4 separate regions of the Homo sapiens genome follow, and regions 2, 3 and 4 are each reported to be linked to region 1. Evidence: microRNA targets listed by miRTarBase, many of them from high-throughput screens and not tested one by one. Region 1 holds a microRNA gene; each other region holds the end of a gene's coding sequence. Distances are between the middles of the regions.

Region 1 (7,948 bases):
TTAAATTATACCTCACACTTTATACACAAACTCTGAATATATTAGGAAAATAACGTAAAAATTTTTAACAAATCCATACAAGCACTAGAAGAAAACATAGGTGAATTTCTGTTTAACTTGGGTGTGAAGAAAGAACTGTGACCTAAAATCCAGAGGCAATAAAAGAAAATATTGATTAATTTACATTTATAAAAATAAAAGATGTCTGAATGTTAAAAAACATCATGAACAAAGTCAAAAGACAACTGACATGGTAATGGTAGGGAAGTCTGTGTAAGACCAATCTGCAGATAACAACTACAAATTCTGGAAGAAATATTTTTTAAAACTATCTAAAAATAACAATCTAAAGGCACTGAAAGGGGACCAAAAGAAAACAGAAACTGGACAGGAGTCTGCCCTTCAAAGAAGTGACCCACACTAATGAGTTTTCTGTTTTCACAGCTTCTTGCCTGAAGGCAGCAAGATCCCAGTTGGCACCTCCCAGGGCATCTTGAAATCAAATAGAAACTTGCAGTCTTACTGGCTTGGGGAAATCAAAGGATAAAACTCAGAGCTATCACCACAGCTGAAAAGTGCTGAGAGAAAGCATTAAAAGGAGAGAGCCATGGAAGAGGAGCTCCAAATTCAGAATATAAACTCTGTAAATCTCTCAACGCCCCTGAACTATGCATGTATGAGACAGACTTCAAGCAGCCTATGTAAGACTAAAAGAATTAGACAAAATGTCAGCTGTTTCTCACCACAGCTATGACAGATTTTTGGAATTTGAGTTCAACCAAGTTAATTTTCTGCTTAAATAGAACTTTTTTTTTTGACACAAAGTCTCGCTCTGTCACCCAAGCTGGAGGTCAGTGGCACAATCATAGCTCACTGCAACCTCAAGCTTATGGGCTCAAGCAATCCTTGGCCTCAGCCTCCCAAGTAGCTGGGACTACAGGTACATGCCACCATGTCTAACTTGTCTTTTAATTTTTAGTAGAGAGGAAGTCTCCCTGTGTTGCCCAGGCTGGTCTCAAACTCCTGCGCTCAAGTAATTCTCCCACCTTGGCTTCCCAAAGTGCTGGGATTATAGGTGTAAGTCACTGCACCTGGCCTAAAACAAAAATTTAAATCTCTTCAGAGGAACCATAAGAGAAGCCATAGGCTGTATAGCACGTTGTCCACAATGTCCAGAATAAAATAAAAATCACTAGACATACAGGTGAGTGTGTGTGCACACTCATGCACACACAAACAGGAAATGGCACTCCATATACAAAAGACAAAGGCAGCCCATGGAGATTGATCCTAATATAACCAACACGTTGGATTTAACAGATGAAGATTTTTAAAGCAGCAAATGAAACTATGTTCAAAGATGCAAAGAAAATAAGCTCCTAATGAATTGACAAATAGGAAATCTTTGCAGAGAAATAGAAACATTAAATATACCAAGCTCACAATTACAACATGTAAAATAAAAAATTCACTGGATGGGCTTAATAGAATATTGAAAATGTTAGAAGAAAGAACCTGTGATTTTGAAAAAAAGATTAATCAACATAATTCAATCTCAAGAAAAAAATTTAACCTATCGGATAATATCAAAAGGTATAACATAAATATAATTGGGTCTCCAAAAAAAGAGAGAAAGAATGAAGCAAAAATTAAGGTTTTTTGAAAAACAAGGGCCAAAATGTCCCCAAATTTAGTGAAATAAATAAATATGTATATATATATATATATATATATATACACACACACACACACACACACACACACACACACACACACATATATGCTATGTGGAGATACATACAAAAAATATGCAAATACAAATATATATGCAAATACAAAAATATATTCAGAAAAAACACCATGAACAAGTAGGTTTATCACAAGAATGCAATGTTGATTTAACATATTAAAATTGTCAATGTCACATGTATATCTCTACATGCATATATATATATACACACATATGTGTGTGTGTATGTGTGCATATACATTACAATCAAACTTCTGAAATCAGAGGTTAAAAAAATTATTGGCTGGGCATGGTGGCTCATGCCTATAATCCCAGCATTTTGGGAGACTAAGGTGGGAGGATTGCTTGACGCCAGGAGTTCGAGACCAGCTTGAGCAACATAGTGGACCCCCATTTGTGAAAAAAAAAAAAAAAAAAAAAAAAAAAAAAAACCAGCCAAATAAAAATGATAAATTAAAGTCTGGGTATGGTGGCTCATGCTTGTAATCCCAGCACTTTGGAAGACTGAGGCAGACATATCGCTTCAGCTCATGAGTTTGAGACTAGGCTGAACAACATAGCAAAACCCCATCTCTACTAAAAATAAAAAAATTAGCCGGGTGTGGTGGCATGCACCTGTGGTCCCAGCTACTTGGAGGGCTGAGGTGGGAGGCTCGCTTGAGCTTGAGAGGTGAAGGTTGCAGTAAGCTGAGATCACATCACTGCACTCTAGCATGGGTGACAGAGGGAGACCCTATCTCAAAAAAAGATAAATTGCGTAGAAGGGAATAAGAATATAAATGATGGCCAACTTTTCATCAGATAAACATAGGCCAGAAAATAATGGAACCACACAGTTAAAGTGCGGGGGTAGGGGGAACACTGTCAACCTAGAATTTGATATCCAAACAAAATATTCTCCAAGAATGAAAGTAAGAAAAATATTTTCAGGCAAATAAAAACTACCTGAGTTCATTGCTGGCAGATCTACATTATAAGAAATGCTAAGGCATGAGAAAATAAAGCCAAAACTAATGAAAGAGAAAGCAGACAAACAACAGACAAATAACAGAGCCAAAATATGGTTCTTTAAAAATACGAATAAAAACTATATACCTCTACCTGGACGAAGAAAGGAAAAAAGAAGACACAAATTAGCAATATCAAGAATGAAATCAGGGACACCAGTATAGAGCCAATAGACATTTAAAACATAATAAGGCAATATATGAATACTTTATGCCAATAAATTTGTCAATTTGGATAAAATGGAATAATCCTTTGAAAAATAAAAATAACACACAATGAAAAAATGTTACTAGCCTTATACTTAGTAAAGAAATTGAACGTATTATCAAAAATCTTCACACAAAGAAAATTCTAGACTCAGATAGTTTCTTTGTTGATTCTGTCAAACATTTGAGAAAGAAATGACATCAAATATAGACAAACTCTTTCTAAAACACAAGAGAAGAGAACACTGTCTGAATCACTTTTATGAGGCCTATATAAATTTGATACCAAAAAACTAGCAAATATATTACAATAAAAGAAAACTACAGAATATCCCTCATGAACCTAAACAAACTACTAGCAAATCAAATACAAAAATACATGCAAAAGTTCATATTCCATGAAGAAGTAGGTGTATCACAAGAGTGCAATGTTGATTTAACATATTAAATTGTCAATGTAATCCACCATATTAACAAAACGAAAGAGAAGACAAATATGTAATCATTTCATAAGCAGAAACATTATTTCCCTAAGTTCAACTGCCATTTATGATAATGGTGAAATATTGTCCTCTTTTATTATCAAGAACAAGCTAAAAATGTTTACTGTCACCACTTCTGTTCAACATTGTACTGGAGGTCCTAGGCAGTAAAATAAAACAAAATGAAATAATAGGCATAAAGATTGAAAATTAAGAAGTAAAACTCCCTTTGTGTATAAATGACATCATTGTTTGCAAAGAGAATCCTGAGGAATTTATGTAAAAATAGCAAGGTCACAGAATACAAGATCAATCTGAAAAAATCAATTATATTTCGATTTACTACCAGCAAAAAAAAAGTTTAAAAACCAATTTTATTTATAATGATATCTAGAACATTAAATACTTAGAAATAAGGTTAACAAAAGGTATTTAATAACTCTATGCAGAAAACTATGAATTTAGAAGACCTAAATACATGGAGAGGCATTTCATGTTCATAAGTTGAAAAACCCAATGCTTTTATAATATACAGTCTCCTCAGATTGATCTATAGATTCAATGCAATCTGACTGATAATTAGGTCAAGTTTTCAGAGAAACTGACATATTGATTCTGACATTTATATGGAAATACTAAGGTCCTAGGATCTCTAAATTAATACTGACAAGACAGAATATGAGGACTTCCACAACCTGAGTTTGAGGCTCCAGTAGCCAAGCTAATGTACACAAAGCAAGTTTATGCAAATACATGAATAAAACACAACAGGCAGCCTAGACCTAGACTCACACCTATAAGGTTACTTAATGACTGACAAAGCCACCGAAGCTCCAATGGGAAAAGTAAGCGCTTTTCTAGAAATGATGCTGGAAAAATAGATATCCATATGGGGAAGAAAATGAATCTCAATTCCTATCTCAACTCATGCACAAAATTAATTCAATATGGATGATAGACCTAAACATAATACAGCTAAAATTATAGTAGTCCCCCTTTAACCACAGTTTTGCTTTCCATGGTTTCAGTTACCCTCAGCCAACCAAAGGGACATGTGGCTCATCATCCACTCACATCCAAAAAACTAAAAGAGAAATTTTAGAAATAAATAATTCATCCCTTTTTAAAAAAATTTTTTTGAGACAGAATCTCACTCTGTCACCCAGGCTGGAGTGCAATGGCGCAGTCTTGGCTCACTGCAGCCTTGGTCTCTCAGGCTCAAGCAATCCTCCAACCTCAGCCCCCTGAGTATCTGGGACTATAGACATGCACCACCACGCCTGGTTAATTTTTGTATTTTTTGTAAAGATAGGAGTTCGCCATGTTGCCCAGGCTGGTCTTGAACTCCCGGGCTCAAGTGGTCTACTCACATCAGCCTCCCAAAGTGCTGGGATTACTGGTGTGAGCCACTGCACCTGGCCAACTCATACGTTTTAAATTGTGTGCTGTTCTGAGTAGCATGATGAAATCTCAGGCCATCTGTCCCGTCCCTCCTAGGATGTGAATCATCCCTTTGTCTCGTGGATCTACACTGTAGATGCTACCTGCCTATGGGTCATTTAGTAGCCATCTGGGTTATCAGATCAACTGCCGTGACATCACAGTGCTGATGTTCAAGTAACCCTTATTTTAGTTCGTAATGGCCCCAGTGTGCAAGAATAGTGGTGCTGGCATATCATTATAATTGTCTGTTTTATTATAATTTGCTGTAATCTCTTCCTGTGCCTAATTTATAAATTAAACTTTATAATAATATAATATTATATATAATATAATATAATTTATAAATTAAACTTTATAATAATACATATAGGAAAACAACACAGTATATATACAGTTCTTTAGTATCCATGGTTTCAGGTATCCACTGGGGGGTCTTGGAATATGTCCCCAGCAGATAAGCAGGGTATACTATATAGAACTGTCAGGAGAAAAATATTTGAAACCTGAGAATAGGCAAAGATTTCATAGGTCACAATTATAATGATATGCCAGCATCACTTGTCCATGACAAGGTGCTTTACAGAGGCCATTGTCTCCTTTTAGCTAGGCAGTGAAAAGCACATTACAAGTAAAGAAAACAGCAGTTTTCTTAGACTGTTTACTTTGCAATAAAGGAATACCTGAAACTGGGTAATTTATAAAGAACAGGGGTTTATTTGGCTCATGCTTCTGCAGCCTATACAGGAAGCATAGGGCCTCAGAAGCTTCCAATCATGGCAGCAGGTGAAGGGGAGCCAGTATATCACGTAGTGAGAGAGGGAGCAAGAGAGAGAAGGAAGTCTCAGGCTCTTTTAAATAACCAGATCTTGGGCGAATTGGTAGAGCAAGAACTCCCTCATTACTGCAAGGATGGCACCAGGCCACTCAAGAGGGATCCACCCCTGTGATGCAAACACCTCCCACTAGGCCCACCTCCAACATTGGGGTTGCCATTCCAACGTGAGATTTGTAGGGCACAAGTATCCAAACTATATCAATGTCCTCTGAGTGTGTGTGTGTGCACGCGTGAACTCATGGGGTTTCTTATTCTCATAAATTCTGGCAGTCCTCTATTAATTACTTACTTCAGACACAAATTATAACCAGATATGGGACAATATAGTTACTAGGGAAAAAAGTTTACTTTCTAAAAAGAATTGGCATATTCTTTGGTTAATTAAGAGGAGAAAGTATCCAGAACCCTTTTCCAGTTCTCTTTGCAGAAGCGTATAATTGCTTTAAGGGTCTTTCTGGCGAAAAGTGATTAGAGGATACATTCCGCCAAGCACCAGGCTGCTCCCTCGGCATGTCCCCCACTTCTGCTGATGCACTAACGTGTCTCAAATCAGTTGCCAATTGGCAGGTGAATCCTATAAAACTGCAAACCTCTGGTGGAGAAACATTATATAAAAGGAATGTAATTGCAGGAAGCTTTCCACCTGCCCCATTCTAGAGGCATCGCAAAGCAGATTTTGTCTAAAGGCTTACCAGAAAGTGAGAGGGCTCCAAAAGGACTTAGAAGGCCCATCAAGCACAACCTGGCATTGTTCATCCCTAATAATTATATGTGCAGAGTTTTATAGTAGCTCTTCTCCTAGTGGTTCTTTTCATCAGCCTTGTCAATGGAGTGAGAATAAACCTCCCTTCCTGTCTGCCACCCCACCCCACCCCCACTGTGAAGCACCTGGGTTTTGTGTGGGGTTGACTCCCCCGTGCATCCCAGCATCAGCCCGGGCCTGACCAGTCTAGCCCAATCAGGGCATCCCCCACTCCCCTTGCTGTGGTATTTTGTTCAGGGATGAACTCCTGCAGAGAGAGTATGTCTTCATCAGAGACAACTGGCAGGCCTGCCCTGCCGAGGAAAGCCAGCCTGAAGACAAAGCCCACACAGGGCAAGAGAAACTAAGAGAAGTTAAGACAGAACCAGAACCCTGATCAAACCACACCTGGAGCCCACCAAGCATTTGTGTCGCAAAAACTTAGTGAATCCCATCTAATGTTCAAACCTGTGCATTGGATTAGGTTTTTAGTACCCTGCACCCAAAACCTCCTCACTAAAATACTACATATCCTCTGAAATATTAAACAAAAGAGAATGGAAACTACCAACTACTCATGTAATGAGTTTTAGAAATCCTGGCCTTGAAAGATGTTGTGTTCAGGAACGACTATATAACCAACATAGGTTGTATATTTTCATGGGGCAATGACACCTCTAATAATTCACGCATCATTTTCTACTCACGCACTGCTTACTTCTATAAGGATTTCACATGGCTTACAACAAAATACCTATATATTAGGATAATAAAATAAGAGTTAATTATCCAGGGGAAAAGATGGATATATCAGAAAACATCAGTGAAGTATAACTCTTAGGTTGGAACATACAATTTAGCTCCGAGCATTCTGTCAGCCAAGGTTAAAATTATTACAGGTTGAGTATCCCTACTCTGGAAAGCTGAAATCTGAAATGCTCTAAAATCCAAAACTTTTTAAGTACCAACATGATGCTCAAAAGAGACGCTCATTGGAGCATTTCCAATTTTAGATTTTTTGACTTAGGGATGCTGAACAACTAAATGTAATGCAAATATTCCAAAATCTGAAAAATATTGAAATCTGCAACACTTCTGGTTTCAAGCATTTCAGATAAGGGATACTCAACTCAACCTGTATCTTACTATCTGAAAAAGAAAAATATCTATGTTTGCTGGGAGGTATGACGCTTTTTCCTAGCAGTAGTAAGTAAGCTCTAGAGCAGCTGTAGTCAGTTTGGGAAGTTTAGGCCCTTGAATGCTGACATTAGCTGAACCACTTTAGCTTATCTGTATTTAGAGCATCACCAAAAGTGTTGACATTAATCTATGTACTGGCAGTGTTAGAATGTTATCAGATTCTGGCAGAGAAATGTTTACATCAGCACTTGCAAGAAAGTAGGGCGGGGTGCAGTGAGTTTTTCAAGGAAGTACAATGTGATCCCAGCCCCACAGGGTTGTTGTCAGCAGCAGCAGGAGGGC
Region 2 (7,948 bases), not on the chromosome of region 1:
GAATAAAGACTGTGATTTGAAAGCAGATGCCCCTTCATCATGGAGGTCTTTGAGCTATGGCTGAGGAATTAGAGTCTTGGAGAATGGGATCTGTTTGCTATTAAGTATCTCATTATATCCTAACAGACCTTATAAATTAAGGCCTATACACATTCCCAGTCTTTTCATATGGAACAACTCATAAAATAACTTTCTCAGGGTCACTTAAGTCATAGATGAAGTAGAAACTGGAACCCACATCTCCAAACTATTACTTCAGTATCCTATCAACACACAAACACTGTTTGCCCACTGAATAATATATTTGTTGTAGGCACCATCAATGATCAGGGAATTGTGCGCCTGCTGGGAAATTATTAGCCCAGAACAGGAGACCTGGTTATTGATTAAACAGAGCTGCTGCTGGTTAGTGTTAGGCCACACGAGGCTAGATCTACAAAAGTGAGGCAACATCCAGTGGCTAGAGAATGTGCACTGAGGCTCTGCTAAACGCCACAGTAGGCAAGCATGGCTTAGTACACAGAAGACTTCAGAAGACAAACAGCACATATTTGTTTCTGGAGATTTAAAAAATAATAACATTCCAGTGTTACTGGGAGACTGATTTACTATTCAGAGACAAATAAGTTGGAGAGAAATTTTTTGTTCAACCATACTAAATACTAAGGCAAGGTATTGCATTATTACAAGGTAAGACTAGAGGGACTAGAGACTTACTTTTGATGCATGAGTGTCTTATTGTTTCAATGAAGTATCATTTTACCTTCAAAACTTTAGCTCCGGCCGGGTGCGATGGCTCACTCCTATAATCCCAGCACTTTGGGAGGCCGAGGTGGGCGGATCATGAGGTCAGGAGATCGAGACCACAGTGAAACCCCGTCTCTACTGAAAATACAAAAAATTAGCCGGGCGTGGTGGCGGGCGCCTGTAGTCCCAGCTACTCGGGAGGCTGAGGCAGGAAAATGGCGTGAACTTGGGAGGCGGAGCTTGCAGTGAGCCGAGATGGTGCCACTGCACTCCAGCCTGGGCGACAGAGCGAGATTCCGTCTCAAACAAACAAACAACAATAAAAAAAAACCTTTAGCTCCTCTGAGCAAGTGCGACTAGAGCATAATCATTGGCTATCTTAAAAATATACTCTGATGCCAGGTGTGGTAGCTCACACCTATAATCTCAGACTTTTGGGAGGCCGAGGTGAAAAGATCCCTTGAACCCAGGAGTTCGAGACCAGCCTGAGTAACATAGTAACAAACCCTATCTATACAAAAAATACAAAAATTAGCTAGGCATGGTGGTGCACACCTGTAGTCCCAGCTACTTAGGAGTCTGAGGTAGGAGGATCACCTGAGCTCGGGAGGTCGAGGCTGTGGTAAGCCATGATCACACCACTGGGCAATCCAGCCTGGGTGACACAGCAAGACCCTTTCTCTAAACAAAACAAAACACTCTGGGCTGGGAATGGTGGTGGCTCATGCCTGTAGTACCATCACTTTATGAGGCTGAGGCGGGAGGATTGCTTGAGCTCAGGAGGTTGAGGATGCAGTGAGCCAAGATTGCACCACTGCACTCTAGCCAAGGTGACAGAGCAAGACCTTATCTCAAACAAACAAAAACCACAGACACACACACTCACTCTGGTCACTTTGGCAGGGTTATTTTCATTAAAATTTATGTTATCTCTCAACTCCCAGGATCCTAGTCAGGTCTGTGGTTTTCTGATCCTTGAGCCCAGAAACCCACCTTAAGTTGTTACAAACACTAAGATCATTAGCATTATTTATTTTAATTCACAGACCTTAGATGAGAAGAAACTGGATATCTGATCTAGTTCATCCTCATTTCTTGCCACATGTTCTCTCCATGATATGTGCCAAGGGGCAGTCTAGCTTGAATATCCCACTGATGATGTGAGACTTACTGTTTCCTGAGGCATTCATTTAATCTCTGAGTACTTGGACACTCCCTATGTATAACTTCTCAAGCCTTCCTGAATGCACTCTTATCTCTGCAAATTGTGATAATGAGTCAAAGCAATTTCTGGTGTCATCCTTTCTGGCTTGACTGAAGAATCACAAATACTCCTTTTATTGGCATTGTTACCAAGTTCTACCAGAGTGGCCAAGTGTATCTGCTTGTTTAAGCAGGGAGAGGAATTCATGCTAAAATTCATCTCTAAAGGAAGATACCTTGGCATTCATTACTAAAGGTGACTGATTGAGAAAGGACCTTGTGGTTTGGGATGGAAGATGAGTACAGAGGAGTTTCTGACTCTAGGTGGTTCTGAGGTTATGTATAAAGCCAAGGTGACACTTCCTTGTTTTGAGACCTTTTCTCTTTCCTTTTTTTGAGACAGGGTCTTGCTCTGCTGCCCAGGCTAGAGTGCAGTGGCATGTTTACAGCTCACTGCAGACTTGACTTCCTAGGCTCAAGTGATTCTCCCACCTCAGTCTCTCTAGTAGCTGGGCCTACAGGCATGCACCACCATACACAGCTGATTTTTGTATTTTTTGTAGAGACAGGTTTTCACCACGTTGCCCAGGCTGGTCTCAAACTCCTGGACTCAAGCGATCCACCCACCTCAGTCTCCCAAAGTGCTAGGATTACAGGTGTGAGCCACCATGCCTGGCCAAGGCCTCCTTCCTTCCTTCCTTCCCTCCCTCCTTCCTTCCATCCTTCCTTCCTTCCCTTCTTTCTTTTTCTTTCTTTCTCTTTCTTTCCTTCCTTCCTTCCTTTCTTTCTTTTTCTTTCTTTCTTTTTCTTTCTTTCTTCTTTTTTTCCTTTCTTCTTTCTTTCTTCTTTCTTTTTCTTTCTCTTTATTTCCTTTCTTTTTTTCTTTTTTTTGAGACGGAGTTTTGCTCTTCTTGCCCAGGCTGGAGTACAATGGCGCAATCTTGGCTCACCGAAACCTCCACCTCCCGAGTTCAAGTGATTCTCCTGCCTCAGCCTCCCAAGTAGCTGGGATTAGAGGCATGCACCACCACACCTGGCTAATTTTGTGTTTTTAGTAGAGACGGGGTTTCTCCATGGTGGTCAGGCTGGTCTCGAACTCCCAACCTCAGGTGATCCACACGGCTCGGCCTCCCAAAGTGTTGGAATTACAGGCGTGAGCCACTGCGCCCGGCCAAGACCTATTTTCTATCAGTATCCAAGTCTTAGGATATCGTCACTCAAAACAGAGATGATGTCTTCTCAGAGAATTTAGTGCTGTATTTTTCATACTGTCATCTCCAGCCAAGCCACCCTGGAAATCTATGTATAAATACATAAAATACTAAATTATGAGAATTAAGTTATAGCTTAGCACAATCTTGATATCAGAGATCAGAACTTAGAACTCACAGAAAATTTCAGAAGCAGTTGTCTGCTTTCTGCATTCTGATCCATGGCTAGAGACAGAGGACTCAATTGCCACTTCTGAATTAATGCCTCCCTTTAGTCATTGGCTTTTTGTTTTTGCTTTATTGTTTTCATTATGATTTTGAGACAGGGTCTTGCTCTGTTGCCCAGGATGGAGTGCAGTGGCGCAGTCTCGGTCCACTGCAGCCTCTGCTTCCCAGGCTCATGCGATTCTCTCACCTCAATCTCCCAAGTAGCTGGGACTACAGGCGTGTGCCACCACACTCAGATGGAATTTCACCATGTTGGCTAGGCTGGTCCTGAACTCCTGGACTGAAATGATCTGCCTGCCTCGGCCTCCCAAAGTGCTGGGATTACTGCACTTTGCAGTGAGTCACTGCACCTGGCTCGTTTCCTTATTTGTATTCATTTTTTTATCTTACCATTTGAAGGTGTTGGTAAATAACGGACACCAAAAAGGAGGCAAGCAAGTAATGAGGCCTGAAGATTACTGAAGACCCACCACCTGGAAAGTCCAACTCAGTGGTTCTTAGGTGTTCGGGAGGGGCTCACTGAAGTCTCGACCTCCAGGGCTGAAGCAGTGCTACCGCCTCAGTCTCCCGAGTGGCTGGGACTACAGGGTGCACCACCATGCCTAGCTAATTTAATTTTTTGTAGAGATGGGGTTTTGCTATGTTGGCCAGACTAGTCTCGATCTCTTGGCCTCAAGTGATCCTCCCACCTCAGTCTCTCAAAGTGCTGGTATTGCAGGTGAGAGCCACTGTGCCCCGCCTATTGTTTGGTTTTGTTGTTTGTTTCTTGCTTCCTCAAACTCATAACTTGCCATTTTGTTCAAGGGCCACCCATTCACAGAACAGTGTGCCTGGGGCTCCTCCAGCTGGCTTCACACAATTAGCTATTTACCAAAGCAGAATTCACCTGTGTGATTCTTGAATCATTAGGCTAAAGGACAGGGCCATCCAAATCTTTCCTGCTTGAACAGAAATTACACTTTCTCAGCACAAAACAGGCATTTCAGCCCTAGTCTTCAAGTAGTAATGGGAAAATCAGAGAATGTTCTTGGGATATGCAGTGGGTGCATCTGGCACAAGGGCCACGGAAGAGAAATACTTTAGGGTTCGGGTCACTAGAGTTCAGGGTTCAAAGGAATTAATGGAACGTGAACTGGGGCTGATTCTGCCATTCTTCTGACTGTAACTACAAAGTTTATACATTTCTCTCCCTGGAAAACTTTCTTTCCTATCAAAAGGGAAAGGAAAACCAACCACTATTTCTCCAAAAGCTATTCTCTTGAAGAACCAGAATCTTGCATTATCTGGATAGTTTCTAGAGAAACTATGCAGATTTTCACCCTTAGGGACTCTTTAAGCCTTAGGGTTTAAAAACCACTAGGCTGCTTCCCATTTTGCAGGGCAACTGGGACTACGGGACCCTAATTAACTGAAATCCTCACTGTACCAGATGTGGAGGGCAGCTGGTGGTAGCGGATGGCCAGATGGCAGTAAATCTCCCTCACCAAGGCTTACACCAAGGCTGTTGTTCACCGGCAGTAGAGCAGCTTAATTTCAGTTCCTTTTTATTTATCCTGCTTAGAAACGGCAAAAGAACGTCAGATGAGGAATATGGAGGAGGAGAAACAAGAAGTGGGGAGAAGGGAGATAATTTTTCTTTTCTTTTTTTTTTTTGAAACACAGTCTTACTCTGTCGCCCAGGCTGGAGTGCAGTGGTGCGATCTCAGCTCACTGCAAGCTCCGCCTCCCGGGTTCACGCCATTCTCCTGCCTCAGCCTCCTGAGTAACTGGGATTACAGGCACCCGCTACCACGCCCGGCTAATTTTTTGTATTTTTAGTAGAGATGAGGTTTCACTGTGTTAGCCAGGATGGTCTCGATCTCCTGACCTCGTGATCCACCCACCTCGGCCTCCCAAAGTGCTGAGATTATAGGTGTGTGCCACCGCTCCCAGCCAGGAGGGAGATAATTTTTCACAACAAGATAATGTCCCTTAGATTATCGAGTGCTGTCTACATTTCAGTGCAGATTCTTGGAGTTATTTCAAAGTTTCTTCTGATTTGATCTAGAAGAACAAGATCTAGAATCTGGGGCAAGATTATCCAAACCTGAAATCAAGGCCTCAGGAATACCTTATACCAAGTCTTGGAATGTGGGTTTTCGTATAAGCAGCTCTCTTCTTTACAACAGCTTTGCTGTTTTTGAGGTCAGAACAGGAGCCCTCTTTCTCAATGACGATTAAAATAAAACTTCAGGGCAAAGTTTTTGAATCTTAGCAACACATGGAAACATATGTCCTGTTGCCAAAAAAATTTTAATTGCCTAATCCAAACCAGAATATTTAGATCAACCTGTATACTATATATTATCTCTGATATACTATATCTCTAGTCCTCAGCATTATTCTTCATAAAACCAAATACCCACTTATTTGCTGAGTGGCCAGATCTAAGAGGAAGCTTTTCTGCCTTTACAGGGATGGCCTTTTGAATAATTGAGCAGACGAAGCATTGGAATATGAAATATTTGTAAATCACTGGTCAGCTCTAGTCAACCTCTTGGTGCTTTTGTTTCCTCTGGTCCCAGATGTGTCTCCTGGCTCTGGAAAGGGAGAGGCCAGTAGTAGGATCAGAAAAGGGAGCAACCAACCAGAAAACACCTAAGTTATGAGGTTTGTGCTTTTCCTGACTTAGAGAAAGTCCATATCTCAGGAGATAAACAGTTCTGGCTGCAGCTCTCTGGAGTAATCCCCTGAAATGGTGCCAGAGGGAGCATGTAGGGTAGCCAAGATTCTGACTCCTTGAACCATGGTCTAGCAAAGCCCTCAGATCCTGCATGAGAGCGCTTCCTATTTGTAAAATACCCTTGGGATCTCTCCAGTGAGGCTTGGGGGCCAGATCAGCCCCATTCCTAGCTGAGACTTGCAGAGCTCCTCTGAGAGATTGGAACTTCGCATTCCTTGAGATGGACATTCACATTCTCTACCTGCTCAGCCCTCAGCGAGCCAGCCCCACTGCCTCTGCCGCCCTTCTCACACACACAAGCCTGCTGCCGCAGTTGCCAGAGCATTCGGTCAAAGCAGGGCGCCACAACCACAGAGCAAATGAGGGAAGTGGGGCCGAGACACAAACATCCTGTCCTCATGACATCAAATGGCTCCAGCTTGAGAATCGGGGTCACTGCCCAGTGACATACACAAACGTCTCATCCCTCTAGCCACTGCCAGTAAGAGGGCATTTTCTCCTGAGTCCATGGATTGAAAAAGTGCTATCCTTTGGCTTGTGATGTCAGTGACAGGTGACAGTGACTGGAACGCGCCGCTGCTGACCGGATGAGTAGGGATATGTTGAGCAGAGGCCAGGCAGGAGTTCTGCTGAGGATGAAGTGAGTGCAGGCTCGCAGGACGTTCCTTCTCTTTCAAGGCACCAATTTAAGAGAGAGGGACTGAATGAGGAGCACAGAGCTGGAGCTCCCTCTGTTCAGTCCGCCCCATCTTTCCAGGACTCCCCCTTGCCCAGCTCTGTTTTTCTTTGCAGGACTTGGGGGTTCTCAGGCCAGGTCTTTCACCTTGTGTATGATCGCTTCCAGTTAAAGATCTCCTCCAGGTTGGAAGAGGAAGAGACTTCCCGCCTCTGCAAGGCTCCCCCACGACGACGGCCCCCAAGGAAGGAAGCTCTGTGCCTGCTCAGCCCTTTAATCCTCTCCTCCGTTCGGAAGAACTCAGTCAAGGCCCGGAAGGACTCCAAGATGACCTCATGGCTCCAGGCTGGCAAGGGCTCCTGGCGCAGGAAGCCACAGTGGCCTCCGTGGCGACTGAGCAGGAGGAAGAAGTAGGGGTTGCTGTGGAAGAGTTCAGTTGTCAGAGTGTGGTCTGGGGGTCCACACACGGGGTCGTCAGCACTGCAGATACACAGCACAGGCACGGCTGCCTCATCGACATCCCGGAGCGGGTCGTTGCGGTCCCAGTAGGTATCCCAGCTGATGGGGAAGCTTTTGGTGTGGCAGAAGAGAGCCTCCTCAAACTCTCGAAGGGAACGGCTCCTGAACAGTCTGCTGGTGTCCACAGTGTCCTCCAGGGCTGTGGCATACCTGGCAGCGAGGTGTTTAGTGGGGAAGGTGGGAAAGAGAGGGAAGAATGAGAACATCAGGTGACAGCAGATGAGACAGACAGACAGCCCGCAGGCCAGATCTGTCCACAGAGGCTTTCTTTGGCCATTTAGGGCTTCGAAAACGTTTAATTTCATGGCCATCATTTAAAACCAGATAAGGCTGGTTGTGGTGGCTCACGCCTGTAATCCAAACACTCTGGGAGGCCAACGAGGTGGGTGGATCACTTAAGTCCAGGAGTTTGAGAACAGCCTGGGCAACAGGGCGAAAACCCATCTCTAAAAAAAAAAAAAAAAAAAATTAGCTTGGCATGGTGGCTCAGTCCCAGCTATTCAGGAGGCTGAGGTGGGAGGACTGCTTGAGCCTGGGAGGTCAAGGCTGCAGTGAGCTATGATTGCACCATTGCATTCCAGCCTGGGTGACACAGAGAGACCATTTCAAAAAATAAAATAAAATAATATAAAATAATAAAAG
Region 3 (7,948 bases), 3.9 Mb from region 1:
GAATTGCTTGAACCTGGGAGGTGGAGGTTGCAGTGAGCTGAGATCGTGCCACTGCACTCCAGCCTGGGTAACAGAGCAAGACTCCATCTCTAAAAAAAAAGAAAAGAAAAAGAAAATACTACCATGGCAAAAATGAACATGACTTCATGTTTTAGAAAGCTAGTCTCATTTTGACTTTTCACCCCTCCTTTCCACACATATTTTTAATGTCTTTACCCTGTGTACTTCCTGTCTTGTCAACTCTGCCTGGCTTGTACCTTCATGGTTGGTATTACTATTATGCCTCAGTATCCAGTTGTCTTCTACATGAGAAGACTGGATTTCCTCAGTGCCTTGACATTACATATGGCCATGTGACTTGCATTGGCAAATAATGAACAGAAATTACCTGTGTAGCCAACTCAGCAGCCTGTTGCGAGGGGTGATATAGGAACACACAGTGATATACAAATGCCATGAGATGAAAGTACCCTGGAATTCTGAAGCTGGAGAACAGCTTCCCTGGAGAAGAGCCAGGAACCACAGTAGACTTTGGGTGAGCACTGGGATTTGGGACTTGTAATTGTACCATAATCCAGTTCACCTAGATCAATACTACTCCCTGTGATTCTCCTTCGTTGGGCTTCTTACATGGCTATTTTGGTGGCAATGATTAGCCTTAAGATCCATGCATTGTCTTTGCTGAAATCTTTAGGATTAAAATACCACACGATTTTCTAGTAATAATACAAAAACATAACTATTAGCTTCAAGGATCTCAGACATGAGTGTCCCTCTGTAATATTTTGTCTTATTTCAATAAAGATAATCTAAATGATGAAGGTAAATCTTCTCAACTGATCTGGGTTCCCTCAATCATCTAGAACGTCACTCAGCAAACAGGCATCAGAGGTTTCGTCAGTAACACTTGTGTTCTGTCCTGTATGTGTTCTTGCAAAAAATCAAAAAATTAATATGCTCATGACATATGGGTACGCATGACAGCTACAGCCATTCAAAACTTAGTATGGATTTAGCAGGGGGAAGAATCTATCTACATCTTACCTTTTAAATTTCAGTGAAGCCTCTTGCTAGCAGAACAAATAATAAATCCATAGTGCTCAGTATTATGTTGACCAAATCAGAGTTTCTAAGCCTAGGCACTATTGCCATTTTGCGCAGGATAATTCTTTGTTGCAAGGGGCTGTCTTGTGCACTGTAGAATGCTGAACAGCATCCCTGACCTGTATCTAGATCTCAGGCCACTAGCACACCCAAGCCCTGTTAGGACAACCCAAAATGTATCTAGACATTGCCAATGTCTGCTGGGAGACAAAATTACCCCCAGTTGAGAAGTACTGGCCTAAATGAATGTACACCTTTGTGATAGATGTTGCTCAATGATGAAAATTTAAAAAGCATTATTAAATTTGAGTAAAATAGTAATCAAGATTAATGTTTAAGAATAGACACAGTAGATATTTTAATAAAAACAATGGTCCTGCCATTTTTTATTTATCATAGCAATACATACTTACAGAAGAAAAAGAATCACACATTTTAAATTCTGATCATTACACTATTTTTTTGTAGTTGAATAATAAAAGAATGAATCTCTTAGTGACTTTTTAAAATACCTTCAATGTTGGAAAAATGCAAATTATGATATGATAAACATTCAATAACTGGAGTAAGTTCACTTCCAAATGAAAGACACTTGGCACCCAGTAACAGTAATGAAATTAAACATCACTGAAGACAGTAAGGAGGTCTGCCTGGAGGTCTCTAAGGAGGTCTGCCTGGAACCATATCTTTAGTGTAGATTCACAATCAATCCAATCTTTCAACCTACATTTTAATAATTTAGCTTTAGAAGAATAACATGTGAATCAGTTTTTCTCTAATAAGGCCCTGAAAAAGTTGTATCCTGAAGCACTATAAAGAGAGTGAAACTTTTTTGTTGGTAATCAACAGCTTCAAATATTGGTTTTTATCAACGAATTATAAATACCTTTTTATAAAAGGCCAAAGGCACAGTAAAACAATGAGTATTTGTACTTTACCATTTTAGAGCTCAAAATAATTCAGAACACAAAATAATTCAGGCGACCAGCACCTAATCTGTCCTGTAGGTGGCAAAATTATCATAAAAGGAATCCAGGCACAGGAGTCAGAATTGCTGCACTGAGGTTAATAGTGACAGATGACTTAAAGCTTTATCCGACATACAATTTTTAACTTTTTCAAGTTTTATAGATTCAAAGTGCCTTTTGTATCGCTCTGAATTAACAAAAGTTTGTCTGCATGGTCAACACCAATGCTTAAAAATATGTTTTCATTTCTCAGGCTCTGGACTTTCAGTCTGATGATCATTTCTTTTTATGATTATTCCTGAAAAATTCCTCTCCTTTTTCTCGTTTCCCAACAGATTTTGCTTTATTTTTATTTATATTTAATTATTTATGTTTTTGGAGACAGGGTCTTGCTCTGTTGCCCAGGCTGGAGGGCAGTAGCATGATCATAGCTCACTGCAGTGTTGACCTCCTAGGCTCAAGTGATCCTCCAACCTCAGCCTCCTTAGTAGCTGAAACTAAAGGTGTGCATCATGCCCAGCTTTTTGTTTGTTTGTTTGTTTGTTTTTGTTTTTGTTTAAATAGAAAGAGTCTCACTATATTGCCCAGGTTGGTCTTGAACTCCTGGGCTCATGAGACCCTCCACCTCAGCCTCCCAAAGTGCTGGGATTATAGGTGTGAGCCACTGTAACCAGCCAGATTTTGCTTTATTGTATGATCCATCTAAATTGAAGAAAGAGAGGTTGTGGAACTAAAAATCAGTTGTTACTTTTTAGCAGCTGTGAAAAGCAAACTTAAAATCAATATCTAAAAGGGAGGATATGAGGCTCACTAGATTTCATTCAGCTTTACATTTTCCCAATTATTTGTACTGGATAAAAGAACTGTAGCAAGACCTTTAAGGAGTTACAATAACTTATAGAAAATTTTGGGTACCATGGTTATGACTATGCTTATATGTAAGGAACAAAGAAGTTTATAAATGATTACAATTAAAAAGCTAACTCTAGTCAAGTAACGTTTTATCCTCAGGAGTTGATATTACTTATTTTCATGGCTTCTTTGCATCCTTACAAGATGGAGATACTAATCTATGCCCTGGATTCATAATTAAAGAGTCAGATATGAGAAACAGTCAGAGCCATCAAATAAAAACTGGGGGCAATTGCCTGGCGCGGTGGCACACACCTGTAATCCCAGTACTTTAGGAGGCCAACACAGGTGGATCACTTGAGGTCAGGAGTTCAAAACCAGCCTGGCCAACATGGCAAAACCCATCTCTACTAAAAATACAACAATTAGCCGGGTGTGGTGGTGCCCACTTGTAATCCCAGCTACTCGAGAGGCTGAGGCAGGAGAATCACTTGAACCCGGGAGGCGGAGGTTGCAGTGAGCCAAGATCACACCACTGCACTCCAGCCTGGGCAACAGAGCAAGATTCCTCCTCAAAACAAAACAAAACAAAACTGGGGGCAAGTGTTAAATATATAGTTGAAGAACTAAGAATAAATGGGGGATAAAAGGAAGAAAGTACAGTATGCTATACCAGTATGTTCTGAAAATGTTGACATAGTATAACTATTTTAAAAATTGGGATGTCGGGCGCAGTGGCTCACACCTGTAATCCCAGCACTTTGGGAGGCCGAGGCAGGCGGATCACCTGAGGTCGAGAGTTTGAGGCCAGCCTGACCAATGTGGAGAAATCCTGACTCTACTAAAAATACAAAATTAGCAGGGCGTGGTGGCGCATGCCTATAATCCCAGCTACTCGGGAAGCTGAGGCAGGAGAATTGCTTGAATCCAGGAGGCAGAGGTTGCAGTGAGCCGAGATCGTGCCATTGCACTCCAGCCTGGGCAACAAGAGCGCGAGACTCCATCTCAAAAAAAAAAAAAAATTGGGAAAGAATGAGAAAAGCAAATGAAAACTTTTTAATTGTTTCAATTGCCATATTATTTGTGGTTGTATTTCTATTGTTATTCTGAGACAGCTGTAAGTGTAAGATAAATAAAAGAAATGAGTAATTGTGGGATGTTCTAATTCTATCGTGCCCTGTGTTCTTGAAAACCAGGACTTTCAGTACAGAAGGAGAGGTACAGTTGTAACAGAAAGGTTAGATAAAAACCCTGTAGGCCGGGCACAGTGGCTCACGCCTATAATCCCAGCACTTTGGAAGGCTGAGGTGGGCGGATCACAAGGTAAGGAGTTTGAGACCAGCCTGGCTATTATGGTGAAACCCTGTCTCTACTAAAAATACAAAAATTAGCTGGGCATGGTGGCTCATGCCTGTAATCCCAGCATTTTGGGAGGCCAAGGCTGGTGGATCACTTGAGTTCAGGAGTTCAAGACCAGCCTGACCATTATGGTGAAACCCCTCTACTAAAAATACAAAAATTAGCCGGGCATGGTGGCGTGCACCTGTAGTCCCAGCTACTTGGGAGGCTGAAACAGGAGAACTGCTTGAACCCGGGAGATGGAGGTTGCAGTGAGTCGAGATCGTGCCACTGTACTCCAGCCTGGGCAACAGAGTGCAACTCTGAAAAAAAGAGAAAGAAAAGGAAAGAGAGAGAGAGAGAGAGAGAGAAGAAGGAGGAAGGAAAGAAAGACACCGTGATTTACAGTCTTGCCAAAGGACTGAACCTAAGTCTTCTCAAATTCAATGTGCCTGAACCTGCACTGTGTGCTAATATCGAGAGGACAGGGCAATGTGCTGAACCGTGCCATGAGTGTGCAATCAGCAAAATACAAAGTATGGGAAACTCTATAGGTCCTAGGATCAGGTTCTTCACCAGGTAAATTTTAAGGAACTGGAAAGAAGGAGGAACTTCTAGATTAAAAAAGAGATGTAAAATAAAATATACATTTAATAACAACTTTAAATTGATAATATTAAAATATAGATATATGCATTTAGGTGTGGCAGCAGTAATCAAATGCAACAAAGTGATTACCATTTAAATCAGTCTAGCAGTTACTTTTGTGGGGTTGTAATTGTGACAGGACACAAAAAGGACACGTGGGGTGACTGGCTGAGTCCTAAAAGAGTATTTCCTTATAATAAGGCATTCAGCTATAAATTTTGTGTCTGGTTTTCAGTACTTTTATTTCATAATTTTTAAAATGTTACAATCAAAAAAGATATCAAAGCCCTTAGGGTTTTCTACTAAAAAGTCTGGATGTGAATACTTATACTGTAAGTATCATCTGATGGTTTTTAAGAAATTGCTTATATTATAGAAATATTTCTAAATAAGCTATAAATATTTGAAAAATATTGAATTCTTATGTATGCAGTTATAAAAAGTCAAAGAATTAAGTATACTTTTCTAACACAAAATTTGTTTTGTTACAGTATTATGTAAGACAATTTGGTTAAATGGATTTTTTTTTTTTTTTTTTTTGAGATGGAGTCTAGCTCTGTTACCCAGGCTGGAGTGTACTGGTGCGATCTCAGCTCACTGTAACCTCTGCCTCCCGGGTTCAAGTGATTCTTCTGCCTCAGCCTCCCAAGTAGCTGGTATTACAGATGCCCGCCAACACGTCCAGCTAATTTTTGTATTTTTAGTAGAGACGGAGTTTCACAGAGACCAGTGTTGGCCAGGCTGGTCTCGAACTCCTGACCTTGTGATCCGCCTGCTTCAGCCTCCCAAAGTGCTGGGATTACAAGCGTAAGCCACCGCGTCCGGCCTAAATGGACTTTCTTGACTTCCAAAATTTTCCTTTCCAACTCCCATACAAGATTATTAACGTTAACCTATTAGAGATTAGAACAAGAGCATTGGAGCAGATTTCTTATTTCTTTGAATGTCTGCACTTTGTTTCACTCTCCATATTTTTTTACACAGAACAAAGATTAGTTATCGTGCCTAACCATGATGGTAGTTATTGATATGTAGCATTATACACAGAGTATTATCTAATTTGCAAACCGAGATCCTCCACCTACTTGCCTACCACCTGTCTTTTCCATGTAACAATGACTGATGTAGATAATTTTTTTTGTTGTTAGATGTGTAAGAATCTCAAGGATGTAAAACAGATTTAAACCATTAAAATTAAAGCAGTTTTTAAATGCACTATAACAATAAACATGGACAAACACATAACTGTGTTGTACATTTTTGCCCATCAATCATTGACAACTTCCCTCCCATTTGTTCAAGCAGCATCTTAAATGGTGCAATTCAGTGGTCCCTTTTCCCTTCGTTTTAATAAAATTATGTGGTGTTCGAGTGATTCACATATTCAAGAAGTGACCGGTCTAAGACTCTTCGGATAAGAGCTTCCTCAATTATATTAAAATCCTACAATAAAGAAAAATAATTAGAAATATTCAGAGTCAATAGTATTTCAGAAACTAGAGGATGAGGGTCAATGCAACACCCTCATTTTGTAGGGAACTAAAGTTACGAGACTTGTCCAAGGTTCCACAAAGCCTGTCATAGAACCCAGGACTTTTGCTTTGGGGCTAATGAATTTTCTACTTCACTTTGTTGTCTATCGATTAACTAGTTACTGTCATAATAAACAGTCTTGATTTGAAATTTGAAGTTTTTATCTGATATAATGAGAAGTTTTTAGTCACCATTACAAATCCTGGTCAGAGTGCTATGTTCCACATAAACCTGTAAAATGGAGCAAAGTTCAGGCTCCCCCACAGGCTTCACCAATGCCAGCAGTACCACTGAATGGCTACTTCTGAAGAAAATGTTAAAAACAAAACTTTCTCCTTGCCTCCTATGTGTCAAAGTGGAATTCAAAATTCTATGTCAGCACATTCTATAAGTAAAACAAAAACCATTAAGAACCCTATCCTCTGCAATCCCTCTCCTCTTCCGCAATAACAAAAGGTGAAATCTCTATTCAAAGTCCATTCTGCAATATAAAAACAAAACAAAAAAACCCCCACAAAATCCAAAGGAAAGTCATAAAGTACAGCAGAACACAAGGTTTGGTCTTGATACTGGCTTGTTCTTAGATAATTCAGTTAACCTTTGAGCTTCAGATATTTCAGTTAAATGAAGATAAAAATACAGTATTCACTTCACGGAAGTTGCTACAAGGAATAAAATGTGATATATACATATAGTGCTTAGCTTAGTATATAGTAGCTCAGGAAGCAAAAAATCAAAACAAAGAACACTACTTCCAGTTCACTTCCCTACCCAAGAATATGGCTGTGAGTGGCTGGAAAGTATTCCTATCAAAGTGGCTTCATCCTGCCTAGCTCTGGATCATGCTTTGTCTGAAAGATCTTGAGAACAGACTGAGCATGATTAGACAGAACAGCCATAGAATCGACCTGGCTTTTAGAACACCTCATAGAGCTAAGGTAAAGAGAAACCTCTTGAGACGGAGTCTCGCTCTGTCACCCAGGCTGGAGTGCAGTGGCGCGATCACGGTTCACTGCAAGCTCCGCCTCCCGAGTTCACACCATTCTCCTGCCTCAGCCTCCAGAGTAGCTGGGACCACAGGCGCCCGCCACCATGCCCAACTAATTTTCTTGTATTTTTAGTAGAGACAGGGTTTCACCGTGTTAGCCAGGATGGTCACGATCTCCTGACCTCATGATCCGCCCATCTCGGCCTCCCAAAGTGCTGGGATTACAGGTGTGAGCCACCACGCCCGGCCAAGAGAAACCTCTTTGTATTACCAGAGAGAACACATAGACCAGAACCAAGTTCTGTTGAGGCCTGTGTGCCATATGGGCCACAAAAGACATGCTTAGAGATATGGAGCTGAGAATTTAAAGCCTCTGTCATGTTCCTTGTTCAGTTCCTCAAGTGGTCCTAACAATTCTACTCCCATCCCATCTCCAATTTGCCTAACATCTGCACCTGAACTGTGCAAAGCACTTTATATACATTATCTCATTTAATCCTAAGAAGAATTTTGGGAG
Region 4 (7,948 bases), not on the chromosome of region 1:
TTCATTTTTAGTAGAGATGGGGTTTCACCATGTTGGCCAGGCTGGTCTCGAACTCCTGACCTCAGGTGATCCATCTGCCTCAGCCTCTGGCAGTGCTGGGATTACAGGCATAAGCCGCCGCCATGCCCGGCTGAAGTTACCGTTTTTAATTTTTTGCTAGGCAAAAGTGAAGTATTTTTCCCAATTATTGGTTTAGGACCGATTAAACAAGTTAAAGATAGTCTAGTAAAAGATGTCTATTTTTTTAATCTGATGGAGCACATGACCGAAGTAACTAAATCCACCAACAGCCCCTCTGCACAGGGGTTTCTGGTGCTGTCCCTGAGGCTTCACGTTTGCAGACAGACTGTTGAGAGAGGAGAATCTCGTATATTTTGGACCTGCAGCCAGGATTCCTTAAAATTAGCAATGGAAGCAAGTCCAGTCTTACACTTGTATGAGTAATTTAATCGCCTCAAACACTCTTTCTTTTTGCAGCCGAGTGCTTATTTCTACAGATGTCTGGGCCAGGGGGTTGGATGTCCCTCAGGTGTCCCTCATCATTAACTATGATCTCCCTAATAACAGAGAATTGTACATACACAGGTAAGGTGCAAGCTCTCATTGGCTTCACTTCTGTGACACATTTACTAAATCTTGATTGTTATATATACTAACTGTAATATTATTTTATTCCTGAAGAATTGGGAGATCAGGTCGATACGGCCGGAAGGGTGTGGCCATTAACTTTGTAAAGAATGACGACATCCGCATCCTCAGAGATATCGAGCAGTACTATTCCACTCAGATTGATGAGATGCCGATGAACGGTAGGAAATCGTCCAGCTCTACTGTAATTGTAGAGGGAACTTCCCTATTCTTAGTTTGGGGCACCTGAGTTTGTTTTTTTGTTGTTGTGGGTTTTTTTGTTTTGTTTTTGAGACGAAGTTTCGCTCTGTCACCCAGGCTGGAGTGCAGTGGCGCGATTTCGGCTCACTGCAACCTCTGCCTCCTGGGTTCAAGCAATTCTCCTGCCTCAGCCTCCTGAGTAGCTGGAATTACAGACACGTGCACCATAGCCAGCTAATTTTTGTATTTTTAGTAGAGACGGGGTTTCACCATGTTGGCCAGGCTGGTCTCGAACTCCTGGCCTCAAATGATCTGCCCACCTCAGCCTCCCAAAGTGCTGGGATTACAGGCGTGAGCCACTATGTCTGGCCTGTTTTTTGTTTTGAGAAGTCTGTTGTGAGGTTTTAGTTAAATTTACGTTAACAAATTTTCATTTTGTTTGTGTTGTTCCTTAATCTGTTTCTTTCTTCACTTTCAGTTGCTGATCTTATCTGAAGCAGCAGATCAGTGGGATGAGGGAGACTGTTCACCTGCTGTGTACTCCTGTTTGGAAGTATTTAGATCCAGATTCTACTTAATGGGGTTTATATGGACTTTCTTCTCATAAATGGCCTGCCGTCTCCCTTCCTTTGAAGAGGATATGGGGATTCTGCTCTCTTTTCTTATTTACATGTAAATAATACATTGTTCTAAGTCTTTTTCATTAAAAATTTAAAACTTTTCCCATAAACTCTATACTTCTAAGGTGCCACCACCTTCTCTAGTAACTTACTGTGTAGTCTTGGGTCATTTCACTCACTTTTCTTTTTTTCTTTTCTTTTTCTTTTTTTTTTTTGAGACAGTCTCCCTCTGTTGCCCAGGCAGGAGCGCAGTGGCGTGATCTCCTCTCACCGCAAGCTCCACTTCCTGGGTTCATGCCATTCTCCTACCTCAGCCTCCCACGTAGCTGGGAGTACAGGCGGCCGCCACCATGCCAGGCTAATTTTTTTGTATTTTCAGTAGAGACGGGGTTTCACCGTGTTAGCCAAGATGGTCTCGATCTCCTGACCTCGTGATCCACCCACCTCGGCCTCCCAAAGTGCTGGGATTACAGGCGTGAGCCACTGCACCCGGCCCATTTCACTCACTTTTCTAATCTTTTTTTTTGGAAAGAGTTTCATCGTTGATGAGTTTTGCTCTGCTGCCCAGGCTGAAGAGCAGTGGCACCATCACAACTCATTGCAGCCACAACCTCCTGGGCTCAAGCGATCCTCTCACCTCACCCTCCTGAGTAGCTGGGACTACAGGTGCATGCCAGCACATCTGGCTAATATTTAAATTTTTTGTAGAGACAGGGTCTCACTTTGTGGCCTAGGCTGGTCTGTCACTCATGGGTTTAAGTGATTCTCCCATCTTGGCCTTACAAAGTGCTGGGATAACAGGTGTGAGCCACCATGCCTGGCCTCATTTTTCTAATTTTTTTTTTTTGTTGTTTTTTTGAGAGCCCAGGATCTCCCTGTCGCCCAGGCAGGAGTATAGTGGCAGGATCATGACTTACCACAATGTTGACAAACTAAAACAGATAATTATCTGTTTAAATATTTAAATTATTAAAGTATTTAAGTTATCTGTTGAAATATTTAAAGTAATTACCTGTAGCTTTATAGGCACACAGCACCACAGCTGCCCAATTTTTAATTTTTTAAATGTTTTTAAAGACAGGGTCTCCCTCTGTTGACCAGGCTGGTCTTAAACTCCTGACTTCAAGCAGTCCTCCCGCCTCAGCCTCTCAAAGTGCTGGGATTACACACATGAGCCACAGACCGGGCTCTAATATTTGAAATGGAAATGTTAAAACTGGCCCCTCCCTTCCTGAAATTAGTTGGGATGATAATCTTTATTTCCGGGTTAGGGTGAGCTTGGAAATAATTTTTAAATTTCATCAGGTGATTCTACTTGAAGGCATCTGAAATTCTATAGTTTATGAATGGAACTTCCTTTCACTGAAACTGTGACTGGACCCTTGCTAGCCAGCTGGTGGCTGGTAGACCAGCTGCATCATCAGGAGTTGGTTAGAAATGCAAGTGCTCGGGCCCTGTCCTGGCTTGCTGAGTGAGAACCTGCAGGTAACAAGACTCCCAGGTGGCACTGCTGGCCGAGCGGGAGGAGCACGAGACTACAGGCCCAGGCAGCTTAATGAGTTCCTGGCAAGGAGGAACCAGATACAGGTGTGTTCAGGGCATTTGCTCAGCAGCAGTGGGGAGTGATGCCCACCACAGCTCTGGCCAGTGCCAGCCTCAATGTCCGTATCTGCAGGCGCCTGAGCTCACTGAGGCTCACCTGGTCTCATCAGGAGCTGCTGCCAGGCTTGTGTTAGAGGTGAGGAGTGGCTCAGGTTTCCACACAGTCACTCCGGAGGACGGAAGGCCTCCATTACCAGTAAGAATGATTCTAGATGAATAAGCACGTGGTGTTACAGTGGAGGAGGCAGCATTGGTGCCTTGGGGAGGAGATGGCAGGAGAAGGGGTGGGGCTTAAGCTACCCCACACACTGTCTAGGAAAGGTCATCCTAAAAGGAAAAATACAGCACAAGTGTTCATAAAAATGTCAAACTGTACTGACAAATCAGAAATGGTATGTGATTATCCAAGATTTAAAAACCACCAGTCCTAAAGGTTGACAAGGAAAGTTTCCAGACTTTCTGGAGAGCAGCCTGGCCCTTGGGCAGTCAGTGATGAAAATGCTATTTCCCTTTGGTGGTGTGTGGTTCTGCTGTAGACAGCTGACTGGAATGTGGACTTCTCCAGGAAGTTCAGCGTTGCTCCTGCCTATACCAGGGAAGGATGCTAAGTGCTCATGGATGGGGGCATGGTGCGGGACAGGGTGGAACATTTGCAGTGATGCTGGGAAGAGAAGGATACAAGAGGTAGAGAACTCATGGAGGTTCTTGGGAGGGTGGTTTGGGGCCAGGATCCTCCCAGAGTCCAAATGGAGTCAAGTTCAGGCAGGGGGTCTGCTGAGCCTTGCTAGGTAGGTATCACTGGGCCTCTGGTCAGGTGGAAAAACTGGCTCTAGATCCTGAGGGGCTTCCCAAGGTCCCCAGCAACTAAATCCAGATGAAAAACCCCTGGGTTATGTACTTCATTACAAAAGTATAATCTCACTGAAAAAAAACATACAAATGCATAATTTGAAAAAGTCATCCTTAATCCTCCTACCCAGATATAACTCACAATTTGATGACTGTCCATCCAGTATTTTAATTTATCTTGTACATCTACCTGTACATAAAGACCTTTTTAAGCAAAAATTGTAACCCACTTTGCCATTATTAACTCAGGTTTTTGCTTAGTAATGTATCATACATATTTCACTACGTTAAAAAAAAAAAAGCTACTTTTCCAGCCTCTATACCATGGCTCCTTTGGAAGCAGTTGAAGATTAATTAGAATAATCTTTTATTTGTTTATTTTTTTGAGATGGAGTTTCGCTCTTGTTGCCCAGGCTGGAGTACAATGGTGTGATCTCGGCTCACTGCAACCTCCACCTCCTGGGTTCAAGCGATTCTCCTGCCTCAGCCTCCTGAGTAGCTGGGATTACAGGTGCCCACCACCACACCTGGCTAATTTTTCATATTTCTAATAGAGTTGGGGTTTCACCATGTTGGCCAGGCTGGTCTCAAATTCCTGACCTCACGTGATCCTCCTGCCTTGGTCTCCCAAAGTGCTGGGATTAGGCATGAGCCACTGTGCCCACCCAGAATAATCTTTAGAAGTGATTTTCTTGATCAAGGTACATGTTTCAAATTAACGTTGCAGAAAGATTTTCCACCAATTTATACTCCTAATGGTATATTTTTTTTTTTTTTGTTTTGTTTTTTTTTTTTGGGTGGTTGAAATTTATTCAACAAATACATATAGGATGCCTTGTCTTAAAGCCAGGCAATTTTCCTAAAAGAAAAACCACATAAAAAGGGTTCTAACCAAGAGCTAGAGTGTCCTGACCCTTTGAGGTATGTCTAAAGTATAGAAATAGAATGGTAATGTTGATGCTGTTGGCATGTTTCTTTGTAGTAAGATTGTTTAAAATAATACATAGACATAAAATGTATGACGAAAATAGCACAGCACCGAAGAAAGGAGTAATGGAAGTATACTGTCAAGATTCTTACACTATTACTTGAAGGCAGATTGTGATGAATTAAAGATGTGAAACATATATAAAAGTGTTAAGCAATTTTTAGGTATGAACCTTTAAAGCAATACAAAAATGTGAAACAGAAATAAACAGCCAACGTAGGAGACAAAATAAGAGTTCTAAGGAATACTTAATCTAAGAATCCTGAAAAGGAAGGAAAAGGGAACAGAGAACTTACGAGATGGACAAATACAAAACGGTAGTAGGTTGAAAACAACCGTGTCAATAATTACATTTATTGCAGATTGTCTGTCTCACCTCAAACTAAAAGAAAAGCAAGCTAAACCCAAAGGAAGCAGAAGAAAGGAAATAATAAAGATGAGAGTAGAAATAAATGAATAGAAAAATAATAGAGAAAATCAACAAAACCAACGGTTCATTCTTTGAAAAGATCAACAAAATTGACACATCTTTAGCAAGTCTAAGGAAAAATAGGTTCAAATAACTAAAATCAAGAATGAAAGAGGTGATGGCACAGCCGACTGTACAGAATACAAAGTATCAGTGCCATGGATTGTTTGCCAACAGATGAACCTTGATAAAATGGAGAAATTCCTAGGACAAACAGATTAAATCAGTAACCAAACTTTCAACAAAGGAAAGCCAAGGCTTGTGAATCCTGCCAAACTTTTACAGAATTATCACCATCACAATTTTTTTTTTTTTTTGACGCAGAGTCTCACACTGTTGCCTGGGCTGGTGTGCAGTGGCACAATCTTGGCTTGCTGCAACCTCCGCCTCCTGGGTTCAAGTGATTCCCTTGCCTCAGCCTCCCAGTAGCTAGGATTACAGGTGCCTGCCACCACATCTGGTTAATTTTTTGTATTTTTAGTAGAGACGGCGTTTTACTGTGTTGGCCGGGCTGATCTCAAACTCCTGATCTTGTGATCTGCCCCCGTCAGATTCCCAAAGTGCTGGATCACGAAATCTTTCAAAAAATATAAGGCAGAACATTTCCCAACTCACCCTGAGGCCAGCATTACCTGATACCAAAACAAAGCTACCACAAAAAAAACTAGATCAATATCATATGAATATAGATGTAAAAATCCTCAAAAAACTGGCAAAACAAATCCAGCAACATATAAAAAGGATTGTACACTGACAAAGTGGGATTTATCGCAGGAATGGAAAGTTGGTTTAATATCCAAAAATCTGTCAATGTAATACACCCTATCAATAGAATAAAGGACAAAGTCCACATAATGATTTACAGATGCAGAAAAAGCATTGGACAAAATCCAGCACCTTTTCAAGATAGAAAATAAGAATGGAAGGGGGCTGCTTCAACCTGATAAACAGCATCGATGAAAAACCACAGCATTACCCGCTAAGGTTGGGAACAAAACAAGAATGCTCTTGCCACGTCTATTCCAACATTGTACTGGAAGTTACGAGCCAGGACAATTAAGCAAGAAAAGAAATAAGGCATCCAGATCGGAAAGGAAGAATCAAAACTCTCTAGTCACGGATGACATGATTTATACCTAGAAAATCTTAAGGAATTTACACATTTAAAAAATCACTTATCAGAACTTATAAATGAGGTCAGCAAGGTTGCAGAATATATGTTCAACATAGGAAAGCCAGTGTTTCTGTACACTAGCAGTCTGAACAACCTGAAAATGAAATTAAGAAAATAATTCCATTTACAATTGCATCAAAAAGAGTGAAATATGTAGGAATAAATTTAACAAAAGAAGGGCTATACTTGTTCACCGAAAACTACAAATAGCTTGTTGAAAGGCATTGCAAACCTAAATATATAAATGTCCCAGGTTCATGGATTGGAAGATAACTTTCCCAAACTGATTGATATAGTTAGTTAGGCTTTGTGCCTCCACCCAGATCTCATCTTGAATTGTAATCCCCCTAATCCCCACATGTCAAGGGACAGACAAGGTGGAGGTAATTGAATCATGGGAGCAGTTCCCCCCATGCTATTCTTGTGATAGTGAGTTCTCACAAGATCTGATGGTTTTATAAGGGGCTCTTCCCACTTCACTTGGCACTTCTTGCCACCTTGTGAAAAAGGTTCCTGCTTCGTCTTCGCCTTCCACCATGATTGTAAGTTTCCTGAGGTCTCCCCAGCCACACTGAACTGTGAGTCAATTAAACTTCTTTCCTTTTTAAAGCACCCGGGCTCAGGCAGTTCTTTATAGCAATATGAAAATGGACTAATATACTGCTCTGCAGTGTTTAGGAGAATGTGGAGAAACTGGAACCCCCATACATTGCTAGTGGGATTGTAAACAGGCACAGCCTTTATGGAAAACAGCTTGGCAGTTCCTCAAAATGTTGAACATAGGAGTTGACCTAGCAATTCTCCTCCTAGGTCTATACTCAAGAGAATTAAAAAATCTGCACACATAAACCTAATGTGTTCATAGCATTGTTCATAAGAGCCAAAAAGTGGACACAAGCCAGATGTTCATCAGCTGTAAGCAAAACTGGTGAATCCACACAATATTACTTGGCAATAAAAAGGCATGAAGTGCTGACACACTACAACCTGGATGAACCTCGGCAATATGCTAGGTGGAAGAAGGCAGACACAAAAGGCCACACGTGGTGTGATTCCATTTACATGAAACGTCCTGAACAGGTAGATCCATAGAGAGATTAGCAGGAAACCATTCACAGTGGTTTCAGGAGCTTGAGGGGGGAGGAGGGGGATGGGTGAAACAAGGAGTGGCTGAAAATGAGTATAGGGTTTCTTTTGAAGGTGATTCTAATGTTCTGGAATTAGATAATCGTGATGGTTGTACAAGTGTACTAACAACTGAATTGCATACTTTAAAATGGTAAATGTTATGGCATGTGAATTACATCTCAGCACAAATATCATGAGGAATCTCATGCATCCTCTAAAATTACACTTAAAAAGCAAAAAGCACGAGCAAGGGAAAACAAGCAAATTGCCTACTGCAAAATTAAAAGACA

Evidence for each region. The annotated mature microRNA hsa-miR-3929 reads GAGGCUGAUGUGAGUAGACCACU and lies in region 1 at 4,803-4,825, opposite strand. An mRNA with a match to its seed (bases 2 to 7 or 8) in the 3' UTR can be bound and repressed. Matches are read on the target gene's strand: a 7mer-m8 pairs with bases 2 to 8, a 7mer-A1 pairs with bases 2 to 7 and ends in A, and an 8mer does both.
Region 2: the mRNA of ABHD15 is a reported target of hsa-miR-3929. The part of its 3' UTR that is shown has no 7-base or 8-base seed match.
Region 3: miRTarBase lists RNF125 as a target of hsa-miR-3929. Seed matches in the 3' UTR shown: 7mer-m8 at 4,489-4,495, 7mer-m8 at 4,224-4,230 and 7mer-m8 at 3,395-3,401.
Region 4: the mRNA of EIF4A3 is a reported target of hsa-miR-3929. Seed matches in the 3' UTR shown: 7mer-m8 at 1,759-1,765.

Annotation. Positions count from the first base shown.
Region 1 is chr18:35,929,286-35,937,233 of GRCh38, forward strand. MIR3929 (microRNA 3929) reads right to left here and starts at 4,857; the gene lies at 4,803-4,857.
Region 2 is chr17:29,555,631-29,563,578 of GRCh38, forward strand. ABHD15 (abhydrolase domain containing 15) reads right to left here. Exons shown (of 2, transcript NM_198147.3): 2 at 4,917-7,456. The coding sequence ends at 6,931. Among named protein-coding and RNA genes, the nearest start is that of ABHD15, 7.4 kb to the right of the region's middle.
Region 3 is chr18:32,066,703-32,074,650 of GRCh38, reverse strand. It overlaps RNF125 (ring finger protein 125), which reads right to left. Exons shown (of 6, transcript NM_017831.4): 6 at 1,432-6,353. The coding sequence ends at 6,267. Among named protein-coding and RNA genes, the nearest start is that of RNF138, 21 kb to the left of the region's middle.
Region 4 is chr17:80,128,865-80,136,812 of GRCh38, reverse strand. EIF4A3 (eukaryotic translation initiation factor 4A3) reads left to right here. Exons shown (of 12, transcript NM_014740.4): 10 at 478-585; 11 at 682-809; 12 at 1,307-2,444. The coding sequence ends at 1,323. Among named protein-coding and RNA genes, the nearest start is that of EIF4A3, 14 kb to the left of the region's middle. RefSeq lists a silencer at 3,090-3,255.